Regions from separate parts of the Homo sapiens genome. Here region 2 is linked to region 1. Evidence: fine-mapped expression QTL. Tissue or cell type: esophagus muscle. Region 1 holds a variant in brackets; the other region holds the start of a gene. All regions are shown on one strand. Distances are from middle to middle.

What was found. PIP is the estimated chance that this variant, and not a neighbour inherited with it, causes the effect.
Region 2: STX3 starts here. The variant in region 1 is fine-mapped to the expression of STX3 in esophagus muscle (GTEx, PIP above 0.99).

What each region holds. Positions count from the first base shown.
Region 1 is chr11:59,714,137-59,722,242 of GRCh38, reverse strand. No RefSeq gene overlaps it. Among named protein-coding and RNA genes, the nearest start is that of OR10V1, 4.3 kb to the right of the region's middle. The variant C/T (reference allele first, on the strand shown) is at 4,878.
Region 2 is chr11:59,751,394-59,759,499 of GRCh38, reverse strand. STX3 (syntaxin 3) reads right to left here and starts at 4,124. Exons shown (of 11, transcript NM_004177.5): 1 at 3,865-4,124. The coding sequence starts at 3,894. RefSeq lists a silencer at 3,924-4,183 and enhancers at 5,054-5,213, 5,150-5,444, 5,210-5,504, 5,194-5,694.

The DNA of each region.
Region 1 (8,106 bases):
GAGATATGTGATCTAGCAGTGGTCAGCATGCCAGCCCAGGGATCCTCTGAGGACAGGTAAGACCTTGAGGCAGGCCCTTGGGGTCCTCAGTGTTTAGCAAAGGATCCCAGTAAATCTGCAATGGGTTGTAGTCCACTTGAGCTCAGCAAATGCTCAGAATCCCCTCCCCCAGACTCCAGATTTTAGAATGTTAGAAAAATCGCTTGTCGGCCAGGCATGGTGGCTCACGCCTGTAATCCCAGCACTTTGGAAGGTCAAGGCGGGTGGATCATGAGGTCAGGAGTTCAAGACTAGCCTGGCCAACATGGTGAAACCCCGTCTCTACTAAAAATACAAAAACTAGCCAGGTGTGGTGGTGCACGCCTATAGTCCCAGCTACTCAGGAGGCTGGGGCAGGAGAATCACTTGAACCTGGGAGGCGGAGGTTGCAGTGAGCCAAGATCGTGCCATTGCACTCCAGCCTGGGTGAGAGAGCGAGACTCCACCTCAAAACAAAAAAAAAAAAGAAAAATTGCTTGTCAATTACTAAGCTAGGAACAAAAGCTAAGCGTGGAGCTTTACACAGAAAGAGTCAAAGTCTAGTTCCTACTGAGAACTGGTATTTTATACAGATGACTTATGGGAAATTCAAGAATACATACTGTGAAATCCATGCTCCTCAAACTGATGAAAGGCAAAGAGAAAGATCTGTTCACAATGATCAAGGGATCATACTCTAGACCAGATTAAATGAGCTCAACACTAACCATTCCTGAAATGCAGAGATGTATGTACGGTCAAGGAGTTTTCCACTTTTTAAAAAATATCCATCATTTCAATTTCAAATTTAAAGATGTTGAAAATGTAGAAAATACTTCTGTTATAAAAGGAATTACTAGTAGTTTCCTTCACATAGGAGGCCCCTTATGCATTAAAAAGTAATTGTAATTACATGCCATTCTTCAAATGGCATTATTGCAAAAAGAGAGATGTCTGTGTTCCCCTAGCATGTTGTCATTTTATGACAGCAGTTCCCTGAATTTGACTTGTATTATATTTGTATTATATATACACACACACGTACACACATGTATACGTATATCTTTTCTTTTCTTTTCTTTTCTTTTTTGAGAAGGAGTCTCACTCTGTCACTCAGGCTGAAGTGCAGTGGCACAGTCTCAGCTCACTGCAACCTCCAACTCCTAGGTTCAAGAATTCTGCCTCAGCCTCCCACGTAGCTAGGATTACAGGTGTGCACCACCATTCCTGGCTAATTTTTTTGTATTTTTAGTAGAGACGGGGTTTTACCATGTTGGCCAGACTGGTCTCCAACTCCTGACCTCAGGTGATCTGCCTGCCTCAGCCTCCCAAAGTGCTGGGATTACAGGTGTGAGTCACTGCGCCCAGCCCTATGTTTTGTTTTTTGGAGACAAGGTCTTGCTCTGTCATCCAGGCTGCAGTTCAGTGACACAAACACAGCTCACTGCAGATCTTCTGGGTTCAAGAGATCCTCCTGCCTCAACCTCCAGAGTAGTTGGGACCACAGGCACATGCCATCACACCTGGCTGATTTTTTTAATTTTATGTAGAGATGAGGTCTCACTATGTTGCCCAGGCAAGTCTCAAACTCCTGGCCTCATGTAATCTCAGCCTCCCAAAATGCTGAGATTACAGGTATGAGCCATCATACCTGGCCTGACTTGCGTTATTTTTATTACTATCTCTTTCATTCAATTTTGAGCATTAACATCTTCACTCATTTTATACACTTCTTTCTCTTTTCCCAGAAAACAGAGCTATGCCTTATATAGAGCAGGGCCTTAATAATGTTTGTAAAAGGGATTTCTTTAAAACAATATTGTTGATTAAATGAGTAGGTAGTGAAAGAGGAAGAAAATCAGGAGCAAAAAGGAAAGAAAGAGACTATAAATTAAAGTGCTGAGCACTGCCTCTGCAATGATCTGAGGAATGCCTGTGGCACATCACTTTACAGCAATAGAGTTTGTTGAAAATGGACAATTAGAATTAAATAATTTTGTCCCTCTAAGGCACCTATCATTCAGCCTTGCACATACTGCATTGCTCAGTGATGTACAGTTTGTTTTAATGATAGAAACAGACCTGCTTTCAGATCGACCTAGGAATTAAGTCCTACTCTGCCATTTACTAGCTGGGCAAGTTAATTAAACCCTTAAGCCTCAATTTCTGCATCTGAAAAAAAATGTAAACAATAAAGATACCTATTTCACAGGAATAGGTATCTTTTTTTGAGAACTTGTCTCAAAAAAAAAAGAGTGTCTTCTAAGGACAAAATATGTCTTTTGTTTGAGTACATCTGATGTTGGAACATTTTATTTGAATAGGTACCAATATATCTGAAGGTCCACTTTAAAGGAACTGATGCCTGTAAAATAATTAGCACAGTGCACAGATCCTGGAGTACTGAGCCTGCTTTCGCAGTGCACAGCACCCAATAAATGTTAGCCATTATTATTGCAGTAGGAGTACAATAGCCTTTGTTGAATGTCTGGATGTTTCATACAATATACTCCCAGTTCCCTTACAAAAGTATCACATTGGACCATGTAAAATTGCCTATATGCTGCCATTGGTGTTTTCTCTCTTTCTTTTCCCCCAAATCATATGCGACCATTGCTGACCTTCAAAAACAAATTTCATTTGATCCAACATATTAAACTATTTTGGCTCTCTTTCTTTCGAGATGCTGCTGCCAAAAAAATGCTTATATGAATTTCTTCCAGAAAGTACTCATGAGAATATCATCAGACATATAGAAAATGTTATTCAAGGATGTCTTCTGGCTGGGCACAGTGGCTCGCGCCTGTAATCCAAGTACTTTGGGAGGCCGAGACAGGAGGATTGCCTGAGTCCAGGAGTTTGAGACCAGCCTGGACCACATGGCAAGGCCCCTATCTCTAGAAAAATTTTAAAAATTAGCCAAGCATGGTGGCATGCACCTGTGGTCCCACGTACTTGGGAGGCTGAGGCAGGAGAACTGCTTAAGCCTAGGAGGTAGAGGCTGCAGTGAGCCATATTTGCACCACTGCATTCCAGCTTGAGTGACAGAGAGAGAACTTGTCTCAAAAAAAAAAAAAAAAAAAAAAAGAGTGTCTTCCAAGGACAAAATATGTCTTTTGTTTCAGTACATCTGATGTTGGAACATTTTATTTGAATAGGTACCAATATATCTTCCCTGACTCTGCTACAGCCATATAAGTATCTTTAGAAGCCACAAATACCTATGTTCCGAGCTGGGCTTTTGCCCTGTGAATTATGGTTATAACTTTGTTCTTCCTTCTCTGCTCATCCCACAATCAAAATCTCCAAGTTAAGATTTTATTTTCCTCTCAGTTGAGTCCAAATTTGTGCTAATAGCTATATCATGTAGGTCAATTCAGCCATAAAGATATACCTAAAGTCAATACATTTTTATAAACTATCTTTTCTTTCTTTCTTTCTTTCTTTGTCTTTCTTTCTTTCTTTTGTGTTTCCTTATTTATATAAAGTACCTTTTAACAATAACTAGTTTATAAGTAGATTAAAGGGTTGTCATTCTTCACCCTACTAAAAGAGAGATTCTGAAGAATAAGGTAACATAGGAGACTAGGAGTTGAGCGAGATGTAATATGAAATCTCTTCCAGAAAATATTAGATAGACCTGCCAGGTATTCTACCCACTCAACATTTTTTTTCAATCTTAGGATAGATAATGAATAAAGGAATCAAATAATCTGTATACTTCATTGAGCAGGTAATACATGCAGGCATTCTACTAGGTTCTTTCACGGACATCGTTTCATGGACGTGCACCTCACAACAACACTGTAAAGTAGTGAGGTGCTATTCTGAGCAAATGGGATCTTAGAGAGAGCAAGTGACCTAGCAAGATCACAAAACTAATAAGTGACAAAGCTGAAATTTGAATACACATCATTTAATTTCAACATAGCCTACTTTCCCGGAGACATCATTTCCCCCAAATTATATGCTTTTTAAAATATATTCATTCCCCTAAAATTTGGTTGTATGACCAGAGGCAATTATATAGACTTAATTAAACAGCCACTCAAACTGAAGTTCCCAGCAACCTACATTTTCTCCCTGTGATTAAATATCATCTGCACATCTAAATTGAGAGAAACTGACAAGGAGTGGCAGAGGCACAAAGGTGTTGCAAACCAAGCCAGAATAAGCAAAAATCTGGCTGACAGTCTTGACCCCTGACTCCATAAAGTAGATGGCATTTCATTTATCTTTGGGTCCCCTAGAGTACTTTGTACATTTAAATGATGAATTAAAAATTGACCCCCTTGTGCAATCTCGGACAAGTCAAGCAGTCTCTTTGGAAAAGATGGACCCAGGTGACCTGGCAGAGCTCTGACTCTGTGAGCATCTGTGACCTTCCAGGGCCACTAGTCAACTTGTATAGGGATTACATGAAGGACAAAGAACTTGTGGAGCCATGTTCTTAGCTGCATGATGGTAAGACGATAAGCTATTTTTCCGAAGACTAGCTGTCTTCTGAGAGTTTTTCTCTGGGCCTTACCTGTTTAGAAGAAGTTGGCTAGTACTTCAGTTGTTTTCTTTGCCGTAATAAGAGAGGAGCTATTCCAAGTCAAGATTTGAGACTTGGGGACTTTGGGAAATTGTATTTTCAATTGAGTAATAGCCAATCTATGGTCTAAATTAACATCTAAGGCTTTTTAACCTAAGTACTCTAATTAGCATGAGAGACAATTTACTTTTTTAAGAACTTTGTGATCAGCCACAGGAAAGAAATTTCTTCAAAATCTTATGTTTTTACTCCCCTAAATTCATGCAAATCTTCCCACTACCCTATATTATCTCCATGTTTGTTTTGATATGAAATCATTCTC[C/T]GAAATTTTTCAAGTTAAAATAGACCTTTTAAAAAAACTGCCATATTGATCCTGGAACTTCGCTTTCTCTCAAAACACAGCTTTGTACCCTCTAGATACTAGAATGTCCACAGTCTAGTTTAAAAAGCAAGCATGGATCCAAATAGCTGCTACCACCTGTCCAGATTTATGTAAAGAATGAAGTCAGCAAAGCATGCAGCTATTTGTTTCCATGATGCCCAACATTTAATTCAATATTTTAGCATCACATGGATGAATAGTGAGCATGCTGGGCCATCTTTTGAAAGTTGTGTCTAGTTGTCTTCTTTGCAATAAAAAAAAAATGCACTTCATATTATTCTAAGGTTGATATCACTTCTAAATAGAGCCTAACTTACATCTATACCTTCTCACAATGGCAACAGCAACAATAACAAGCATCTCTTGTTTTTCCAATAAATTTTACCATAGACCAAGAAAACAAGATGCTTTTTTTTTTTTTTTTTAATGGAGAGGAGGTTCTTAAAAACTACCTGGGGTAGGGTAGAAGGGAAGGCCATAATATGATGAGTAGAAAACTTTTTAATAAAGAAATTAAGGGCTGAGCGCAGTGGCTCACGCCTGTAATCCCAGCACTTTGGGAGGCCGAGGCGGGTGGATCACTTGAGGTCAGGAGTTCAAGACCAGCCTGGTCAACATGGTGAAACCCCATCTCTACTAAAAATACACAAATTAGCTGGGTGTGGTGGCGAACACCTGTAATCCCAGCTACTTGGGAGGCTGAGGCAGGAGAACCGCTTGAGCCTAGGAGGCAGAGGTTGCAGTGAGCAGAGATTGTGCCTCTGCAATCCAGCCTGGGTGACAGAGTGAGACTCCAAAAAAAAAAAAAGAAGGAAAGAAAGAAAGGAAAGGAAAGGGAATGAAAAAGAAAAAAAAAAAGAAAAAAGAAAAGAAAAGAAATGAAATTAAGAGATTGGCTAGACCAATATTATAATGGATATTTTAGTGCTTAAATTTCTTATACAGCATTCTGGATTTCACAGTATTTCTCCAGATTCGATTTTCCCTTCTCTTTTCTAAACCTCATGATACAATAATGCCAACGCAGACCCTGCGCTGCATTGAGACACAAGTGCTTTGAGGAGATTAGGTTGATTTATGCCCAGTAGATAGGATGGACTTCCTGAGTCTAAGGAGATTAAGAAGAACAAGAACAGAAGGCACCTCTGGAACTTTTTATTTCTAGTGTCCTAATGAATTGAGTAATTCATTTTGTTTTGACTGTATAGGTTTGGTTCAGCCCTACATAGGTACTGTCCTGGTCTGGGGACTAGACTCTTAGCCCCCAGAAGACAGTCGCTTAAAACTGCAGGCAGGCACCTATGAAAACTCTTAGGACAGCACACAGGACTTCAGATCATGGGTCACAGAGGATTCTACCCTCTCTTTGTCTCCATTCCCTCTCTTGTGAAGAAATGAATCAAACCACCCTCCCTCTATCTCCACCCAAAACATCACAGTTTTTAGCCAAATATTTTTCCTCTGCTCCTTAGAAGAGAAAAAAGGGAAGTTCTTTTTGCTGCATTGCCCGGAGCAGCATTTACTAGATAGCCATAGTAATCATGTATTGTAATTATTATTGTAATTATGTCTCTCAAGTGTGGAAATACTATAATCCAACATTTTCAGTCCTAGATCTTAGGTACTCTTTTTCCAATAGACCATCTAGAGTTCTGAATTGTAATCAATTAATAGCAAAGCTACTTAGGAGATAAAAAGTATGGAGGGAGAAAGTAGGGTATAAACTAAGGTTAAGCAAACAAGCTCTATAATCAAACAAACTGTTCAAACCGTGACTTTTCCATTTTCTAGCTATGTGAATTCAGAAAATGTTAAAATTTCTTTAAGCCTATGTGTCTTCATCTGTTAAAAAGGGATGATGATAGTACACCCCTACTAACATGGTTTTATAGATTAAGTGGGCAAATGCATAATAGAGCACTTTTCACCATGCCTTGCGCTTATTATGAAAGAAATGATAATTTTTCATAAGACAGAGGTCCAGCCCCCATCCTTGGGGAACATAAAATGTAATTGGGTCAGGACATATAGATACAGTAAAATACAGTTTGGTAGCACTAAACTCATAATACTGAGCAACGTAAAACGTCAGAGAAAGGAAAGAGAGTGACCTAGGGAGATTTCATAAAAGAACAACATATCCTAGAATTTGAAAATTGGGTATGATTTGGATTAAGCAAAAGAGAGGAGAAAGTATTTCTAGTTGGAAGGAGAATGGAAGTATATGAAGCAGCAGGGAGAATATGAATAAGAGGCCAATGAGTAGACCATGTGGTCTGTAACAGGGATATTTAAGCGCCATAGCAGGATTAGTCTAAAAAAGTCAGCTCCAAGAGAGACTGGAATAATTGGCAGAAGACTGTGAAGGTCAACATTTAAGCAATAGGAAGGCACTGAAAATTTCTAAGCATATAAGCAACATGATAATAGAGAGCAGGATGGATTACAGAGGGAGGAGAAGGGAGATGGGAGAATAGATAGCTATCACAGGAATCCTCATGGAAGATAACAATGGAGAAAGCTGATTAAGGAAATGGGAAAGGACCAAAGCAACAGATAGGAGAGACTCTTTGAAAGATGAACTATCAGTGTGTAGGGACATATAGGATAAAGGAAAAATGTAAATCAAAGTCTCTAGGTTTTGAGATATATTACAGAGTTTATGATTCAATTTCATAATATGCCAGCAACACAATTCTCTTTAAATTATGGCATACATCTGCCTATACAATCCTAAAATTTTTTATTTATTGTCTTATATAATTAATCAATACCCTATTTTACCCATTTTGTAACTTTGAACTTTAAATTTGCTTTATTCATTAATTTGTTCAGCAAATGCTTCTTGGCAACCCTATACAGTAGGCACTGTGCTAGGCACTGGAATTAAAATAAAGATCACCAGGCCAGGCGTGATGGCTTACACCTGTAATCCCAGCACTTTGGGAAGCAGAGGCTGGCGGATCACCTGAGGTCAGGAGTTCGAAACCAGCCTGGTCAACACAGTGAAACCCCATCTTTACTAAAAATTCAAAAATTAGCCAGGCATGGTGGCGGGCACCTGTAATCCCAGCTACTCAGGAGGCTGAGGCATGAGAATCACTTGAATCCAGGAGGCAGAGGTTGCAGTGATCCAAGATTGCACCACTGCACTCCAGCCTGTGTGACA
Region 2 (8,106 bases), 37 kb before region 1:
CTACATGTCTTTGTCTTCCCTATGTGATCATTTACCCTTTGATACTAGGACTTTGTCAATCCTGCCTAAACTTGACGCCCAGCAGGATGCTAGGCACACAGAGGTCACAAAGCTCTGATCATGGTGGTCAGCAGGTACCATGCACATGCGACCCTGCTGATGCTCCCTTGAGTTGTTTATATGCTTGATGGTTTATACACCAATGCGAGAGTGATTAAGACAATCTAGGATCCTTGCCTTTCTTGTTAAGCCTCAATTCACTCACTTGCAGAATGAGAATAATAGAAAAACCCACTCTGCTTTGCAGGGTTGAGAGGATTAGATACAAGGTCTCTTTACTTATCTGGTACGTAAAGTAACTTATGTATCTCCAACCACCTTTACATATCTGAAAAGGTCAGATTGGGCTGGAAGAATCAGCTGAGCTCAAGCATTACTACTTCTTGGGAACCCACCCAAAGCCTCATGCCCATCTCCCATCTTCCAAAGACTGGCCAACAGGGTCTTCCTGTGGTTGCTTCTATCACAAGGATGATATCCTCATGTCTATTTCTTCTGTTTCTTCCTACCTGACCATGAACTTTCTAAGGGCCAGGAACATGCGTTTATCACCATTACACTCCAGCATCTAGTACAAGGACTGGCACACAGTGGGTACTCAGTACTCAGCAAATGTTTGCTGAATGAAAACAGGGCCATGCAAAAGCATGGAACTGTCTGGACTCAGCAGATTCAAAGTTCAGCTGCTGAGAAGTCAGAGAAAACCATGTCCTGGGATAGGCTGGGTAGAGGCACTGCACATTCTTGGCAAGCCTGTCCTGTGTCACTGAAAAAGCAGGCTGTCGAGGGAGCCCACCAGGAAGAGCAGTGCAAGAGAAGAGATGAGATGAGACCAGGTGAGTCAGATCTTGTGACCATGGCCTCAGGAAGGGATGCCCTTCTGTGTGGACGCTGTTGCCAGCAGGCCAAGACAGAGGAACTAACAATAACAGTGGTGGGTGATTGTCACGGATTATCTCATTTTATCCTCACAATGATCCTATGGGAAAAGGGTGATGAGCCACTTTACAGGGGCAACTCTTGAGGCCTCAGTCCCTGTAGACTTCAAAGCCTCAGGACAGGCTCACAATTAAGCATTTTATAAAACCACACATTCTTAAGGTTGGTGAAGGCCTTATATCTCCTAGTTCACCTCCCCTCCAAGAGATGCTCAAATTCCTACAACATTCAAAATCCCAACAAGCTTCTTGCTTCCTTCCCATGCTGGAGGGTGCACCATCTACTCCATCCTTGGGCAGCTCTGTCTACTAAAAACGCTTTCTTACAGATTCCTCATTTCTACCCATCAACCCCACATGTTCTCTTTGTATCTACCCAGAACAAAGTCAATCACAGGCACGGAAAGCCCTCCAGTTATCGGGAGGCAGTTACCACCTCCCCTCCCCAGGATTTAGAAAGAACACCACAGAAAGAGATTGCATAGGCTGCTCAATGTGCAATTTGTTTCATGCAGGTTAACAAACGCTTCTAATTGATAACGGAAATCAGAGGGAGAAGACGCATATCTTGTTTCAGTGAGGGTGATCCCTGGGAGTCTGGCTGGGGAGAGGGGATAAGAGGAGGTGAACTGACACCAAAATCCACATAAACCTTAACAGTCTTCAAAGAAAAACCTATAATAACGCCAGAGGGGGCTTCTGAGATCAACTCAATTCTTTGTTGTATAAAGGAGGAATTGAGAAGCAGAGAAGTGACGCAAAGAAGCACAGTGATCAGTCTTGGAACCTGCCACCTGTGTCCCTTTGTCCCACGCTGCCATGCATCTGCTCCAAGACGCTACAGAAGCCACCCTGTGATTTCAGAACAATCCTCCCATAATACCACCACCATCTCCAGTCTCACTTTCACCACATCCCCAAGAGGGAAGGGGAGGAAACCTATCATTAATTCCATTGTACAGAGGGTAACCATGAGGCACCGAGGAGAGGCAAAGAGACTTGCTCAGCGTCCCCAGGCAAATTAAATTTATTCTTGGAACTCAAAGCTCAGTTAAGACTCTTTGCTCATTGTTGACAATGAGCTACTGAAAGGGGCCATGGAGTATCTTCCTCTGGAAGTGGATTTCCTAATAAATGGAAGAGCCTGCTGTTCAGTTTTGTACTTTTTTATGGTTGCTGGGTGTGCCGACACAGAGAGATCTTCAAAATCGTGCTCTTCTTTTCCTTCTGCCTCCCCAACCAGCGTGCTTCAAGGGAAGGAGCACTGTGGAGAGTGTCAAGAGCCTGGGTTCCTCTCCTGGTGGTGCCCTGGCCGGCTCTGTGTCCTGGAGCATCCCTCCTACCCCGTGAGCAGCAGTTTCCCCATCTATAAAAACAGGGGCAATAAATTCTGCCCCATCAGTAACCTGGACGCTGTGAGGCTGAGATGACTAAGCACAAGCCTGAGGCAGAGAGGCCACTCCCACAATAGGCAACTGTCCCTTTGCTTCTCTCACTTCCCCAGCTACCTGCCTCCTCCGCAGCCCTGCTACACAGAACAGGTGAAACAGGAATGAAGGTCTCATCCAAGCAAGGGAGAAAAAGGATAAACTCTTGTAACATCATCCCAGCAGTCCCTGACATCTGCATTTTCCCAAGAGCACTCACAGTTATTAGCATATTTCACCATTTATTAAGTCCCCCGTGCCATGCACCCTAAAAGTGTTCTTAAGCATCTTCTGTTGCATTTCGACCTTACAACTACCCATTTTACAAATGACAAAACTTAGGCTGGGATTTTAAGGGATCACCAGTAAGCAGTGGAGCCAGGAGACAACCCCAGTTCTAATCCAGTCCAGTGCTTCCCAAACTGTAATGTGCCCATGAATCACCTGGGGAAATGGATGAATAATTAGATTCTGATTCTGCGGGGCTAGACTCAGGCCTAAGCTGCTACACTTGTAACAAGCTCCAAAGTAGATGGACTAAACTCTTGAGTGTCAAGGGCTAGATTTTAATTCTATTAAGGTAGAACCTGTGCCACTGAATCTCCAAGGCTTAGCACTGGACCTCCCCATAGAATACACTCAATAATTATGTACTGAATGAGTCAATGAATATCTGGCTTAAAACCCTATGCGTTAACCCTTTTCTGTATCAAGTTCCATTGTATCAGCTGATCCTCCCAACAAATTCCTAGGGTATGATCATTCCCATTTGATAGATAAGGAAACAGAGACTCACAGTAAGTAACCTAAGGCTTTACAGCTTTTGCGCAGCCAAGGCTGGAGGTAGTCTACCTTCAGATCCTTTGACCTAACCACAGCTGTTCCAAAAGATACGGCGGGGGAGGGGGGGACAATGACACCCGGGGATAACAATTACAGACCACCGGTTGGAGAGGAGCTGACCCATCCCAGCATGTGACCGGCTCACAGCTCCAGAGGTCACCAGAGAGCTCTGAGCTGCTCCCTGGGGGAAGGGGCAGCCAGGCCTGTAGCACCTCAGGAGAGAAACAGGAAAGGGAGAAGGAGGCTGGTCCTGGGCATAGTGCCAGGCAGCAGTGGGCAGGTGGTGAAGGGACCCCTGACCTCCCGGGCCCAAGCACCCGCTTCGGGAACCAGCTCTGGACAGACACTGTCCAGCTTGCGGGGTGGGAGAGTTAGAGGCGTTCAGGAAAATCATTGCCTAGCGATGAATCACCGGGCACATGACCCCGCAGGGGAGGGGAGGGGAGGGTGCGGAACCGGCGCGGGAAGCGGTGGGGGCTTGGGGAGGGCAAGCCTCCGGCTCGGGCCCCCCTCCAGCCTCGACTTGGGGAGCAAAGGGAAGCCCCTCTCCCATGCAGCACCCCTCCTGGCAGCACCCCGCCTGCGGCGAAACTCACGGCCTTCAGCTGCTCCAGACGGTCCTTCATCCTGAAGCCCAGGCGCCCGGAGGCAGGTAGCGCGTCCCAGGTGAGCGCGTCCCAGGTGAGCGCTTCCCAGGTGAGCTGCCGGAAGCGGCGGCCGGGCCCGCCGGGGCGAAGGAGCTGGAGGCGCAGGCGGCGGCGGGCGGCGGCCGCTAGCTAGGAGGAGCGTCCGAGGCCACGGGAGCCTCCGCCGCGCAGCCCCCTCCGCCCCCACCGGCGCCTCGCGCTCCAAATCCGGCTCCCGGGCCGGCGCCGGCGCAGCGCTGATCCGCCCTGGACCCGCCCCTACCTGGCCGCGCCCCTCGCTCCTTCTTAAAGGGCCCGCGTCCCGCCACCGCCCGGCCGCCCGGGGCGTCTCCAAAGCCCCCTTCCCTAACCCGAGAGCCCTCCAGACACGCGTGGAGTCCGGGGAGAGGCCCCTGCACCGGCGGATCCTGCCGCAGGGCCGAGGAAGAGCAAGAGCGACTGTCTGGCTGCGGTCATTCGCTGTCTGTGCCGGGCTCCTCGCTAGGATCCAGTTCTTAGCCGACTCCTTGCTAGGCGGGGACAAGCTCCCGAAAACAAATAAGACAATGTGATGTGGGCTACATTGGGTGGCAGTCGAGTGTTCTAAAAATATCCCGCCAGGAGGAAGGCATTCCGAGTAGCGGGATCCCGCGCAGCCTCAGGGCTGCTGGCAGTGAAAGTGGGGGGATGGAGGAGGTGTCCAGAGGAAAGACCTGGAGATCTGGAGATACAGGACGGTCAGGGTGGTCAGAGAATTTGGATCTTTTGCTTGTTGGAAATCGGGACCGCTCCGAGAAACGTAAGCAGCTCGATGTTGTTAGTGCCAGTGGAGACACTTGGCACTCACAATTTGCAGACGTTTGGGAAAGCATCGTTTCTCAAGAGGACCCCGTTCCCGTGTCTGTAAATCAGAGATGGTACCCACTTCGTAGTTCGCTGTGAAGCCTGTGAGCGAGGAGGGGCTTTAAAATACAGAACTTTGCACTGGAGCGCTCCCCGTCCTCGCAGCCTGCTTGGTGTGCAGGTGGTTCCCAGGCGGCTTCTGCTTCCGAAAAGCAGATCGTCCCTTTATCTCGAGTCTTCTCCCCGCCTCTCCCTCTTCTCCCTACCCTATTTGTCTTCTTGGGAACAAATGGCACATTCATCAGAGTGGAGATCCATAAACGGGACTGGCGAGCCGAAGATTTAATTCTGAAGAATAGGATCTGCTCTGTGCTTTCAGGTTAAAAAGCTGTAAATATCTTTGTAATTCTAGCAGTACTTTGCCCTCTTCTGCCATCTGAACGCGTGCTCCCTGCTGACCTCATCGGCTCCCATAAAGATACGGTGCGTATGGCAGAGGTCGGGCTTTGAGCCGGCCCCGCGGGTCTCGGCCGTAGTTCTCTCTCGCGTCCGGCACACTTCCTTCTGCCCGCTGTGCTCGCTGGGCAGGTTGTCCCCGCCTTAGTACCAGGAGGGCTTCCGCGCCCCCTGGTGGTCATACTAGGAAAGGCGAGTAGATCAGAAATACACACTGTCCCACCTCCTTCCCCTAACACATTTTTGGGGAGTTTGGGGGTTGTTTGTTTGTTTGTTTGTTTGTTTGTTTGTTTTTTAGACAGAGTCTCATTCTGTTGCGCAAGTTGAGTGCAGTGGCGCGATCACCGCTCTCTGCAGCCTCGATCCCCTGGGCCCAACCCATCCTCCCATCTCAGCCTCCCAAGTAGCTGGGATTACAGGCGTGCGCCACTACGCCCGGCTAATTTTTGTGTTTTTTTCGTAGAGATAGGGTTTCGCCATGTTGCCCAGGCTGGTCTGGAACTCCTGTATTCAAGCCATCCGCCCGCCTCGGCCTCTCGAAGGGCTGGGATTACAGGCGTGCGCCACTGCGCCCTGCCCCTTAACAGATTTTTGTTAGTGGGAATACGTAGTTCCCCGCGCTTCAAGAAAATAGAGTCTTCCGCGAGAGGCCGAGATATGAACAACCCTTCACGTTAGGAATCTGAAAAGGACCATTGGGGTCTGGAGTAAAAAATTCTCTTTCCACAGCAGGAATCAAGGGTGGCCTGTCTGCCTCTGCTCAGAGGGTTCCTGTTACAGGATAATTGTTTTGAAAAGAGTAAAATCATGACTCCTCTACAAATATAAAATGCACACACATCAAAGACTTTAATTCATTAATGAATGAGGAGACCAGTAAAGCTAGCCCTGTCCAGAGGAAAACACAAAGTGTACACACATATATAGGCAATCAGGAATGCTGAAACGAACATGTTAATAAATGCACAACTGGCCGGGTGCAGTGGCTCATGCCTGTAATCCCAGCACTGTGGGAGGCTGAGGCGGGCAGATCACTTGAAGTTAGGAGTTCAAGACCAGCCTGGCCAACATCTTGAAACCTCATCTCTACTAAAAATACAAAAAATTAGCCGGGCGTGATAGTGCACGCCTACAAATCCCAGCTACTCGGGAGGCTGCGGCAGAAGAATCTCTGGAACCTGGGAAGCAGAGGTTGCAGTGAACTGAGATCACACCACTGCACTCCAGCCTGGACCACAGAGCAAAACTCTGTCTTAAAAATTATATTTTTAATAAAAATAAATAATAAATGCAGAACTGGCCTCGGGGTGCTGGGAGAGCAATTGCACTTCTACCAGGCATCTCTATGGACAAGAATCATTGGCATTCCTATGAATTTTCTACAACTTACCAAGTTGGAAAATAGCTGCAAGATTTTATAAGGCAAAAATCACTAAAAAATCAGGTAATCCAGAAAGGTGCTTTAGATAAGGCCTAGCATGCCACAGGACACCCAATAATTTTTGGAGTTTTTGCCATTTTAACTTTTTTAGTTTTTCCAGACATTCCCAAGGTGGCACCTTCCATAGTTGTACAGTTTCAACTGTGTTAAAATTTCTTTGTCGGGGACTGTTGTGGGGTGGGGGAACGGGGAGGGATAGCATTAGGAGATATACCTAATGCTAAGTGACGAGTTAATGGGTGCAGCACACCAACATGGCACATGTATACATATGTAACAAACCTGCACGTTATGTACATGTACGCTAAAACTTAAAGTATAATAATAATAAGAATTCTTTGTCAGCTTGGGCAACAGAGTGACACCCCATTTCTACAAAACATACATAAATCGAGCCAGGTGCAGTGACTCACGCCTGTAGTCCTAGCACTTTGGGAGGCTGAGGCAGGTGGATCATGAGGTCAGGAGATCGAGACCATCCTGGCCAACATGGTGAAATCCCGTCTCTACTAAAAATACAAAAATTAGCTGGGCGTGGTGGTGTGTGCTTGTAATCCCAGCTACTTGGGAGGCTGAGGCAGGAGAATTGCTTGAACCCAGGGGGTGGAGGCTGCAGTGAGAATTGCTTGAACCCGGGAGGCAGAGGTTGCAATGAGGCGAGATTGCGCCACTGCACTCCAGCCTGGTGACAGAGCGAGACTCCGTCTCAAAAAAAAAAAAAAAATTAGCCAGGTATAGTGGTGCTCACATGCAGTCCCCAGCTACTCAGTAGGCTGCGGTGCAGGATTGCTTGAGCCCAGAATTTTGAGGCTGCAGTGAACTATGATCACGGCACTGCACTCCAGGCTGGGTGACAGAGAGAGACATGTCTCAAAAAAAAAAAAAATTAAAAGTATATCTATTCCTTTAAAAAGAGGAACAGGATATTTATAATGAAGCACAGATAAAGGGCAATTGGATAATTGTGGCTTTAAACTCCTTGTAATTAAAGAAATAAGCCATCTAATGTATTTCCTCGTTTGAATGTTTGAATAGCCATACTGAATTTTACTGCACTTTTATAACTTTGTTTTGTCCTGATATCTCACAATCACTCAGGGAGGGAGTTAGGGTACATATTATTATCCCCATTTTATTATAAATTAAATTAAGTACAGAGAAATAAGATGATTTTCCCAAGCTCACATAGCATGCTGATAGACATGCTGCAAAAGGCAGTGGTTGCCTGCCCAGGCTGTGGAGCCAAACTACCCAGGTCAAATCTCAGTTCTACCACTAATGGTTGTGTGACCTTTGGCAATTGATTTAATGCCCCTGTGCCTCAATGTCCTTATCCGTAAGCAAAGATAATAATAATACCCATCTCAGCCGGGCGTGGTGGCTCACACCTGTAATCCCAGCACTTTGGGAGGCTGAGGCAGGTGGATCACTTGAGGCCAGGAGCTCAAGACCAGCCTGGCCAACATGGTGAA